3 linked regions of the Homo sapiens genome follow. The protein of the gene in region 2 interacts with the protein of the main gene of each other region in a biochemical or structural test. Each region holds a gene or a part of one and is shown on either strand. Other genes may lie near its edges.

What was found.
Region 1: the proteins of CSRP3 (region 2) and MYF6 form a complex in vitro, tested with the Homo sapiens proteins (one study listed by BioGRID).
Region 3: the proteins of CSRP3 (region 2) and NRAP form a complex in vitro, tested with the Homo sapiens proteins (one study listed by IntAct).

What each region holds. Positions count from the first base shown.
Region 1 is NC_000012.12:80,705,483-80,709,234, reverse strand, and holds the start of MYF6 (myogenic factor 6), read right to left. Parts: upstream 1,602-3,752; 5' UTR 1,516-1,601; coding exon 997-1,515; intron 712-996; coding exon 621-711; intron 394-620; coding exon 275-393; 3' UTR 1-274. UniProt on the Homo sapiens protein: Involved in muscle differentiation (myogenic factor). Induces fibroblasts to differentiate into myoblasts. Probable sequence specific DNA-binding protein.
Region 2 is NC_000011.10:19,200,601-19,204,352, forward strand, and holds the start of CSRP3 (cysteine and glycine-rich protein 3), read right to left. Parts: upstream 1,384-3,752; 5' UTR 1,354-1,383; intron 1-1,353. UniProt on the Homo sapiens protein: Positive regulator of myogenesis. Acts as a cofactor for myogenic bHLH transcription factors such as MYOD1, and probably MYOG and MYF6.
Region 3 is NC_000010.11:113,615,347-113,619,098, forward strand, and holds part of NRAP (nebulin-related-anchoring protein), read right to left. Parts: intron 2,208-3,752; coding exon 2,109-2,207; intron 471-2,108; coding exon 366-470; intron 1-365. UniProt on the Homo sapiens protein: May be involved in anchoring the terminal actin filaments in the myofibril to the membrane and in transmitting tension from the myofibrils to the extracellular matrix.

The sequences.
Region 1 (3,752 bases), on a different chromosome or scaffold from region 2:
CAACCAAACAAAAACAAAATGAGGCTAGACCTAAGCCACTCGCAGTTCCAAAAAAATAAAAGCCCAAAGCCGAAAGGCGTTTTCATTTGAGCATGCACAACAGATTTCGCAATTTTCGCAACGTTTCTTTGTGAATGTGTCTCCTTCCCTTTCAGCAACTTTTCGGTCTGGGTTCCTAAATGTTAATGTAATGTGACCTAATCTAAAGGATTAGGCCAGGAAGGGTCGGTGGGATCTTCCTGCTGCGTGGAGAAGGTCTCAAGCGCAGGCTCAGTTACTTCTCCACCACTTCCTCCACGCAGGGGAGTTTGCGTTCCTCCGAGGAAATACTGTCCACGATGGAAGAAAGGCATCGAAGGCTACTCGAGGCTGACGAATCAATACTTGCTCCTCCTGAGCGAAAAAACAACACACAAACATAGCACCCAAAGAAGGAACACGAAGCAGCTCCGCGCCCCGCGCGAGGCCGCTTTGGCAGCGAGGAAAGGCCTGGTCCCGGCGCGCAAAGAGCGCCCTTTTCGCAGGGCGCGTCCCTGCTCTCGCTTCGAGCCCTCTCGGCCCAAGCATCCTATCCACCTCCCGGATTTTCTCTGGTGCGGCCCAGAGCCCTTTTACTTTACCTTCCTTAGCCGTTATCACGAGCCCCCTGGAATGATCGGAAACACTTGGCCACTGGGAGCTGCAGGTGCGCAGGAAATCCGCACCCTCAAGCTGGAGGGAAAACCAAGGCAGCGGCAGATTAGGAAAGAAACATCGGTTCCGGGGTTGGGGTGGGGTGGGGGGCGGCTTTCCTGCTTCCTCGGGCCGGGTACGCATTTCCTGCCTATTGCAAGCACCCGGTCTTCTTGGGTCACTGGGGGTTCATTAGAGACGGAGCGGGAGGGGCGGGCGAGAAAGGGGGAAGGGAAAAAAGACCAAGCAGCTGGAGGTTAAGGCCCCGCGGAAGGCGTTTAATCAGCCTTCGCATTTCCCTGCCCCGGCAGCATCTAGGCTTACATTTTCTTGTTTGGGTCTGTAGCTGAAGGGGTCCACCCCCAGCTCCTGCATCTTCTCCTGCTGATCCAGCCGGTGCAGCAGGTCCTGCAGCCGCTCAATATAGCTGATGGCGCTCCGCAGAATCTCCACCTTGGGCAGCCTCTGGTTGGGGTTGGCCACAGTTCGCCGCTTCAGTGCCTCGAAGGCCTCGTTGATTTTCTTTAGCCTCCTCCTTTCGCGCAGGGTGGCGGCTTTTCGCCGGTCAGTGGGGGCAGATTTTCTCTTGCAGGTCTTGCAAGCCCAGATCAGACACTGGCCGGGGCAGTGTGGAGGCTGCAGGCCCGGGGGCGCCAGGACATGTTCCTCTCCGCTGCTGTCGCTCCCCGCTTCCGGGGGCATTTGGTCCTGGCAGGGGGACAAGGTACCATCACTCCCTGGATACAAAGGAGAGCCTTCTGCCACTTCTAATGGCTGCAGAGTAACATTTTCCCCATCCAAGTAGAAGAAATAGGAGCCAGTTTCAAAAAGGTCCATCATCATGTTCTCCTCCTTGGCCTCTGACTCGATCTGAACTGGGTGATGGACTCAAAAACCCAGAGGAACCACCCAGATGGCATTTAATTAGTGCAGTGACATAAGTCGACCCAGCTTTATATATAGTAGCTCCTGAAACTCAATCCAACTTTTAGCTGTCATGGAGCATCAGTCTCCCAATGTGATTGCAGCTAGTGCTCTCTAGAACATCTAGTTTGAAAGAAAACTGAGAAGTGTCACCTCCCAGAGTGTTGTGACAATCTATGTGCAGACCAGGTTACACAGAGAGAATCACATAACTTAAACAAAGCATTGAACCCTTCCATTTTGGGCAGTTTAGATACTAACCTGCTTACAGGACAACTTCAAAACAACTGGGGATTAACATTGCCCTATTCCCCTCCCCCTGCGCTCATCTGAATTCTAAGTATAGACCCATGATGAAAGATTTCAAAGGCAATAGCCATTGCTCCAAAATAGCCGGGTTAATATTTGCAGAGTGGTTCAGCTCCTTTCTCTCTCCTGCCTCTCAAAAAGATGCTATTCCTGTGATTAAAACCATTACAGTGCTTCAAAGGTTATACATGACTTTCAGGCTTCAACCTCAATAGAAGCAGGTAAATCTCTTTCCTCTCTTTTACTAAGGCTGCAAGATGATTTGGGAAATGGAGGGGGTTGCTGAAGGGTGCTCACATCCCATGATACTGGATGAAATGATTCTCTGGGTCCTTCCATAGAGACCGTCCTTGACTATCTTTTTTTTTTTTTTTTCCTTTGGGGAGAGGGGCAACCAGGATCTGAATTCTGTACCCTTCCATTTGTGGAGCAGTATTACATATGAGGTAGGGAGTGGGATAGAGGATGGGGTTACAATACATGTAGTAACTCCTCCTTAAAAATAGTTTTAGTGAAAACAAGACTCACACCACAGCTACTTGATATTTCAGCATTTACTTGTGGCCCCCTCCAAGGTGCCTCTCTTATGATTCCAGTTCTGCACACTGTGTGCTCACCACTTTTTCTTTTGCATTCTCACTATCCATTGACTCCAAATAAGTTGTTTGATAGGATTTAAGTGAGAAAGGTTAGCAACCAAGGCACGAGCAAGGAAACAGCATTTTTTAAATTGCAGCTTGCCCATGGTCCACAAGATACATGTATTGTTCTTCGGGAGACAGTACAATATGAAGGTCAAGTGCGGGGGCCCTAGATTCCAAAGAACTATCAAGTCCTAGCAAGGTTAATTTCTATGTATATATCCATGGGTAAGTACTAGATCTTGATGTCTTCAAGATGATAGTGGTTTCCTTACAGTTTTAGTGAGGATTCAATCAAATGATACCATGCATGTGAAACACATAGCACATAGCTGCTTGATGAACAGTAGTTATCATTTGTAGTATAAAGCCATGTTAGGGCAAAGACTCATTCCTATGAATGAAATAAAGCATAGCTGTTGGAGAGGTTTTTCTTTTTCTTCCCTCTCTCTGTTTTGTTGTTCTTTCCCTTCCTTTCACCTTTCCTCCTAGAGCTCTAGAAAGACTTCCTAGCTGTAACTGGCCTTTGGGATGTCAGTTGACCTTGGTTTTGGTCTTTATAGTCAGTGCCTCAAAAACTATGTGGGAACATAAAATCTTATTGCTCTACCCCAAGCAGTAATGATTATAAGCTGTGTTCTTTATGACTTTATTTTAAAAAATGAATAGAGTGAAGATAATGCAGGAAATCAACTGTCAGATAATTTAGAAATTAGCTAATCAAGTCGCCTATTCTAGAAGATGATTCTTCACAGTTTCTATTGAGCCACAGACTGGATGTTAAGCTTTGATATTTTTGGCTGTTTTTATTCCTTATCAAGTTTAATACTATTCTTAGATTTTTGGAATGGTAAGAAGGAGAGAGAAGAGTTGCAAGAGGCCAATACTTCTTCTGTGACTTTTTTTTTTCTATTTTCGCCAGTTTCTTGGTTGCTCAAGTCAGCAATTAAAACTGCAGATTGAAAGTTTCAGCAACTCAGGGTATAATCTAACATCTATTATAGAAAATTAGCTTGTGCTCTTAACCACACTTTATGTTGTCTCTTGTAAATGTGAAGACAATTTGAAAAGTTAACTAAGATTATTGTGATAAAAATCATTAAGAACATTAAGATAAAAATGACTAATTTTTTTTATTCAGCATTTATTGGGTACCTACTAAGTGCCAGATAGTGTCCTAGGTGCTAAGGATAAAGCATTAAAAAA
Region 2 (3,752 bases):
CCCCAGGGAGGACACAAAGCCCTGGGGCTCAGCTACACCTCCTGCCCAATAGCCTGGGCTCATTGCCACTGACCACAAACGACTGAGTTGTTCAGAAAGGGAACAAAGCCAAGTCATAAGACTCCCTCACATTTTCTGGATCATAAAGCAGTTCTACATGCATTGTGATGAATTGTATGTACCCAGCATTGAGATTTAATCCCAGATGTAAACTGAGGACACAGGCCATCCCCAATTTCCCACTCTTCGTGCTGTTCACTTATACCCTTCCCTGCATAGAGCTGCCTCTACCTCCCTCCAGCCCTGACATAGGAGATGGTCCATACATGCTTATTAAATTACATTGAATCGTATTGCAGAGACAAGGTTCCTCAGACCAGTAACTCAACTCCTCCTTCTTGGAGGAGTCACCACCTTGGCTCAGGAACAGGGCAGAAATTAGAGTCGGCAGCTTGGATCTTTCAGCAGCATTTCCACTCAGACCATTGCTTAAAACCTCTTCTTATTCTCAATCACACCTATGTCTGTCATTCACTGGGATATTTTAAAAAGTCCTTGACTAAAACCTAGAGGAAACAGTGGGAATCCTAACCACTGGATAAATTATCCTCCCATTTAATAGAGCTTTTAATATATTTCAACATAGCAATGTCTTTTTGGGGTCCAGTTTTGATTAATTTCAAAAGATTAAAAGCAAACTTGTTGCTGAATATCTTTGGGATACAAAAGTCTATTTAAAATCAACAAGCCCAAAATCTCAGTCATTCACCACGACCTTTTGAATAACACCATTCCAGGTAAATTGAGCATGGGAAAGCTGTCTTATATATTGCATCTAGTACAATCGCTTATCGCTTTGTATCTGTGCAGTACTTTACAGTTTGGAAAAAATGTCGCCAATTTGTATTGATCCTTGCAGAAGAGGAGACCAAGCCCCTGAGGGCAGGAACCTTCTCAAAGTCTGTCATCCATGAATTATATGGTGGTTGTAAGACGAGAAGGTCAGCAGACTTTCCATTATTTCCTCCCGCTTTCCAGTTGTTCCAACTAAGATGACAGGAAATGTAATTCCACCACGTAAGTAGTTTTATAATGAGGATAATTCTTTACTCATTTATCTGCCTATGAGGTCCCTTAAGCCCCCTAAATATTAACCATCCTTGCAGGAATTTTTTAATACCTGCTAGATCCACACCAGAGTCAAGTACAACTTGAGCCTCCTTGCACAGAACCAGAGAGGGTGCTGGCACTTGAGACGTAAAATGTGCTCTTACTCTATGGGACCCTTTATAGTCCAAACCAGCCACAGAACCAACCCACCTCCAGCTCAAATGTCTGCCTTGCTCCACTCACCTGCCTGTGTGGACTCCGTTCAGCTCAACTGAGTCTGAGGGGCTCTTGTCCTCTTTAAATATATGAAGGCTGTCACCAGCCTTGGCCTGCTGGGGGAAGGGCAGGAGGGAGGCCAAGGGAGAGGGTGAATGAGACGTGAGTAACACAACTGCTATCAGGGGCTGAAAATAGACTGTGACCAAAGCCCTGAGTTTTGTCTCCCCCAACCCCCCAGCCAGCTGTGAGCCTCTTGGAGAACCGAATCACTTGGGTTCTATTTGCACTGCCAATTGCTTATGGCACCAAGGGATCAATTTATGAAGTGTGTCATTTCTGATCAAGTGGTTGGAACAGGAACAAGAGCTAAGGGTTTAACATCAAAAATCATTTCTCCAGGCCCCCACCCCACTGACCTTCCTGGAAATCATTGCAGGGTACCTGCAAATGAGTCATGTGCCATATCTGGGAGCCTCTGGAACTTAGAGCCACAGGTCACCACACTCGTGAAGAGAACTCAGAGCTAAAAATAAGGGTGATGGGTGTCTGAAACGATACTTAGATAATCTCTTCAAAGAAGCTTGGGAGAAAAAAGGTTGGCACATCACTTGGGACCTGTCACTCCATCTATCCTAGGAAACGAAGTTTTCTCTAAAAAGTTTTGATTTACTTTGTTATTATCCTTTTCTATTTAAGAATTTGATACAGCAGTGCATATTTATCATCATCACATTATATTTATAACATCTTGATATGTCTCTGTAGACCCATATTTTCTTTGGAGGTCTAATTTTTCTTTGTCTGGAATTCACACCGTTTAAATTTGATCAAGCACCAGGGACTGATATAAATTATGGCATTGAAAAGCTGACAAGAGGTTCAGAGATGTGAAGACCAATTCTTCATGTTATAGATGAGGAAACTGAGGCACCAAGCCCCTTCCACTCATGTTGACCCGGATGTTGAGGTAAGGTACATGTAGAACCCAACCGGGAGGTTCATGATCCAGCCTTCACATCAGATATTAGCCCTTTGGTTACCTGCCCACAAAGCAATTGTTGAAGGATAGAATATTTCACTGTCAAGAAGGTTGCAGTAATTTCACAAAGACGGCCGTGGCATAGCCTCCTATGAGATATCCGTGGTCTGTGTTTTCACTAAATGGCATCTTCATCATAAAGACGAGGCAATCACGAGGATTTTAGAAAGTTAAAGCTAGAAAGGACTTTAGAAATCGTCTAGGATAGTGGCTTTTGTTTGTTTGTTTGTTTGTTTGTTTAGAGAAATGGTCCCGTTCTGTTGCCTAAGCTGGAGTACAGTGGCATGATCACAGCTCACTGCAGCCTCGATCTTTTGGGCTCAAGCAATCCTCCTGTCTCAGCCTCCTGAGTAGCTGGGACTATAGGCGCACACCAGCACGCCTGGCTAATTTTTTTGTAGGGATGTGGTTTCACCATTTTGCCTAGGCTGGTCTCAAACTTTGGGGTCAAGTGATCTGCCCACCTCGGCCTCTCAATGTGCTGAGATTACAGGCTTGAGTCACTGAAACTGGTCAACCAATAGTAGCTTTAAAATTTTTTTTGTGTGTGTGTTTGCATCAGAATACTTTTTTCTGTAGATAAGAGGAAAATCAGTATATAAAGCAGATAAAAGAGGAGCTTCCAGTGATGATGAGCATTTTTTCATGTGTCTTTTGGCTGCATAAATGTCTTCTTTTGAGAAGTGTCTGTTCCTATCCTTCGCCCACTTGTTGATGGGGTTGTCTGTTTTTTTTTCTTGTAAATTTGTTTGAGTTCATTGTAGATTCTGGATATTAGCCCTTTGTCAGATGAGTAGATTGCAAAAATTTTCTCCCATTTTTGTAGGTTGCCTGTTCACTCTGATGGTAGTTTCTTTTGCTGTGCAGAAGCTCTTTAGTTTAATTAGATCCCATTTGTCAATTTTGGTTTTGTTGCCATTGCTTTTGGTGTTTTAGACATGAAGTCCTTGCCCATGCCTATGTCCTGAATGGTATTGCCTAGGTTTTCTTCTAGGGTTTTTATGGTTTTAGGTCTGAGAAATGCAAATCAAAACCACGATGAGATACCATCTCACACCAGTTAGAATGGCGATCATTAAAAAGTCAGGAAACAGTTGCTGGAGAGGATGTGGAGAAATAGGAACACTTTTACACTGTTGGTGGGACTGTAAACTAGTTCAACCATTGTGGAAGTCAGTGTGGTGATTCCTCAGGGATCTAGAACTAGAAATACCATTTGACCCAGCCATCCCATTACTGGGTATATACCCAAAGGATTATAAATCATGCTGCTATAAAGACACATGCACACTTATGTTTACTGTGGCACTATTCACAATAGCAAAGACTTGGAACCAACCCAAATGCCCAACAATGATAGACTGGATTAAGAAAATGTGGCACA
Region 3 (3,752 bases), on a different chromosome or scaffold from region 2:
TTTGGAGAGGAGGAGTTAAGCCCCAAGTCTTCCCTTGGTATAGCCACTGGATATACTCAGCTATATTCTGATGTTCCCACTTTCCAGCTCCTCCAAACCAATGCTCTTTGAACTAGGCAGAGAATGTCCCCAGATCATTCTTTCAAATGAGCTGGACTCTTCTGCAGGACCAGCTACATAATGTGCAGGGCCTAGTGCAGATGAAAATGTGGGGCCCCTTGTTCAAAAATATCACATATTTCAAGGTGGTGATGGCAGAACATGAAACCAGCTCAGGGGCTTCTGAGCACAGGGCATTGTGTGCCTGCCCATGACCAGCCCCGCTCTCCCGTCATTAAAACTCGTGCCCCTTGGGTCAGCCTCACCTCACTGATATTCATGGCATTCAGCTTGGCCAGCAGGACTTCAGGGAGGTCAGCAGTCGGTGTGTAATGATGCTTTATGTTTTCTCCTTGTTCCCTGTATAATCTCTGTGGATGGAAGGAGGTTTTGCATGAAACCTAGACCCCATTCCATGCAGCCATCAGCCAGGTTACGCTTCAAGAGTCCAAGCTGCTGCAGCTGCCACCTCCTCATAGAGACATGATTTCGGGCACCCTGCCTCCACCCAGATTTTACAGCTAGCACGGTGACACGCATGTCATTTCCAAGCTCTGCTTCCTAGCTCAGAACATGACAAGCTGAAGCATTCCCCTCAGTGAACGCCCCACTCATAGTAAACTGCTGAGATGGGTGTCAAATGAGAAAACGAGGTTTACTTAACACCTAGTAATAATTTGGTGATTAACTATCAGCTATGAGATGGCATCAAGATACAGAAGGCGAGAAAGAAGATGGCTCTTGTACAGGTGAGGTTTTCTCCTCCCTATCTCAATCCTCCTCCGTTCCCCCGTCTCAAATATTCTTCCCCTAAGACATGTCTCCTGGGTGGATCTGGGACTCTATTTACCCAGAACTCTGACCCAAGCTTCGGATACCCTGATAGTTAATAATGACACATGCAGTTGGCATCAGCCACCAGAGAAAGTTTCCAAACAGGGTTTTTCCATCCCAAATCTTATCAGATGTATCCAAGTTTCTACGTATCACAGCAGTGCCCCCTAGAGTTGGCTAGGATAAGGAAGAAACAGGTATTGTTTTTCTTCATACAAAAGTTCTTGTTTGACCATCTGTGTTTCTCAGAATTCAGTTTGATTCTGATGGGCTGATTATGAAGAAGTTATAAATTCCTAAATCCATAAGCTTGTAAATCATCCCATCCCAGATTCTGACAGGCACTCAGGCTGTTTCAGAATGCCTGTCAAATAAAGCGCAACCAGAATCATTTGCTCAATTGGGAAACAAGGAAGAGAATTTTGAAAGCTATGCCCCCAAGGTTTGTAAATTTTCCCCATGGAAAGTTGAATGGTTTGAAGGTATTTAAAAGCCAGGTTTGCCCTGCACAAAGATCCATGGGTATCTCTTAGCAGAATCAGCCAAACAGGGTTAATCTACATCACAAAGTGTTTTTTTTCAGCACCTCATCGTTCACTTTAGTCTCCAGCCGACCCTGCAACCCTGCACCCCAGCCAACCTTTCCCACAGAGGGAAAAGGGTCAAATCTTGGTTTTGCATCATAAAGGAGTATGGGAAATGGCTTGAAAGTTAGTCTGATGTATATAAATCAGACCCAAATCATGTTCAAAGTCTCTGGGAAATTCATAGAGCAACAATTGCTGCCCTTGGGTCCTAAAGAGCTCTAAGCACAGCGTCAGGATTCCAATTACCAAGAATTTCACCCAGTTCTGAAAACAACACTTTCAGGCAAAAGGAGAGGAGAAAACAGCCTCACCACGAATGAATCGGTGAGACATGCAAATGGGAAGGAGGGAGAGCATCTTGGGGCAGTGGGGTGGTGGAGCCCCACTTGGCATTCTAAGTGCAGTAACACCCCCATTTGCATCCTAATGAGGAAGCACCCCCCGCTAAGGGAGCCTCTGCAAAGGACAGGGAGCGCCTTCATCCTTAGGACAACAGAAGGAGCAAACCCAAGAACCCCTCCGCTTCAATCGCAGTGTTGAAAGAAGAGCCCACTCTTAGAGTCATAATGTATATACATTATCACTTACATCCACTGCTTGGGTATAACTAATTCTGGCCTGGACCATCTCCGGAGTGTCTTTAATACTGGTAAACTTCAAAGCATCTGGATGCTGACGGTACTTCTTCTGTTGAGCAGAAAAAGATCAAAGCTGTGAATTTTGTGCTGCTCTTTCATGCCATTTGAAAGAGAAAATCATAGGTTGCTTGAGATTAGAGTGAATTTGTGAACACAATTATTATTCTGCTTCCTCCATCTTTATATCCTAGGTGCCTTCAGGTTAATATTTGTTTCAATTTAAGAATAACCTCATGTCAATTAACATTAAAGTATTTCTACCTGGTGCAAAGAAAACATCTCAAAATTAGGTTATACTAGTAAAATACTGTAGGATACACACTTAGAAAAGGATTCTTTTTATAGGCTTCAAATACTTTGTCGCAGTTGTTTACATATCTTAGTTTGGGTCTTCTAAGCAAGAAAGAGCATTCAGAGTTACATTTATCCATTTAAGCTTTCTATTTTCCTTCCACAAAAAAACACTGACAGACATTATTGCAGTCAAAACCCTCACATTCAGCAGCCCGCGAGCGTATGCCGTCCAGTCACATTAGAGCCTAGTTCAGTTAACACAGGAAATAATTCTTTAAAATATTACAATAACAGGAAAAAGGGTGCTATTATTCAAAGGAGTCATCACACAGTTTGAAAGACACTGAAGCAAAAAAAAAAAAAAATCACAAAAATGCTGGCAAAGACCTAGATACCCAATTTTGAAGTATTCTGAAAATCTGTTTAAATTAATTTCTTTTTTAAAAATCAAGGTACATTTTTAGGAGACAGAAACCATAATTACTTCAATGAGATCATAGAGTTTATGCTTTCCAAAGCAGAATAATTGTCTTAAACACACTCTTCTTTATCTGGTTGGATTTTTGTACACTGGGTTGTCTTAAGACAACACAAATCAATAGCCAGCTAAATCTAGCTCACCACCTGTTTCTGTAAATAAAGTTTTATTGGAACATGGCCATGCTCATTCACTTACGTGCTGCCTATGGCCATTTTCCAGCTAGTTGTGACAGAGGCAATATGACCTACAAAGCCAAAACTATTTACTATCTGGTCCTTCACAGAAAAGGCTTTCTGACCTCTGCTTTGGATCGTAGGTGTGCGTGTGCATTTGTGGCTCTTTCAACAGTGCCGGGCATTCTCTCTGGAATTAAGAAGGTGGCCCAGGCCGAGTGCAGTGGCTCACGCCTGTAGCCCAGCACTTTGGGAGGCTGAGGAGGGCGAATCACCTGAAATCAGGAGTTTGAGACCAGCCTGGGCAACATGGTGAAACCCCGTCTCTACTAAAAATACAAGAATTAGCTGGGTGTGGTGGTGGGTGCCTGTCATCTCAGCTACTCAAGAGGCTGAGGTAGGAGAATCGCTTGAACCCAGGAGGCGGAGGTTGCAGTAAGCCAAGATCACTCCACTGCACTCCAGCCTGGTTAACAGAACAAGACTCCATCTCAAAAATAAATAAGTAAAATAAAAGAAGGTGGCCCAATTCGACAGTAACTTGTAAATGTGACAGCCTAAAATGAGATGGGGGGGAAAGTTGCTGAAAGATGCCTTGCCTTACTTACTAAACTTTGAGGACTAGTATGAGACAAGCCCATCAAAG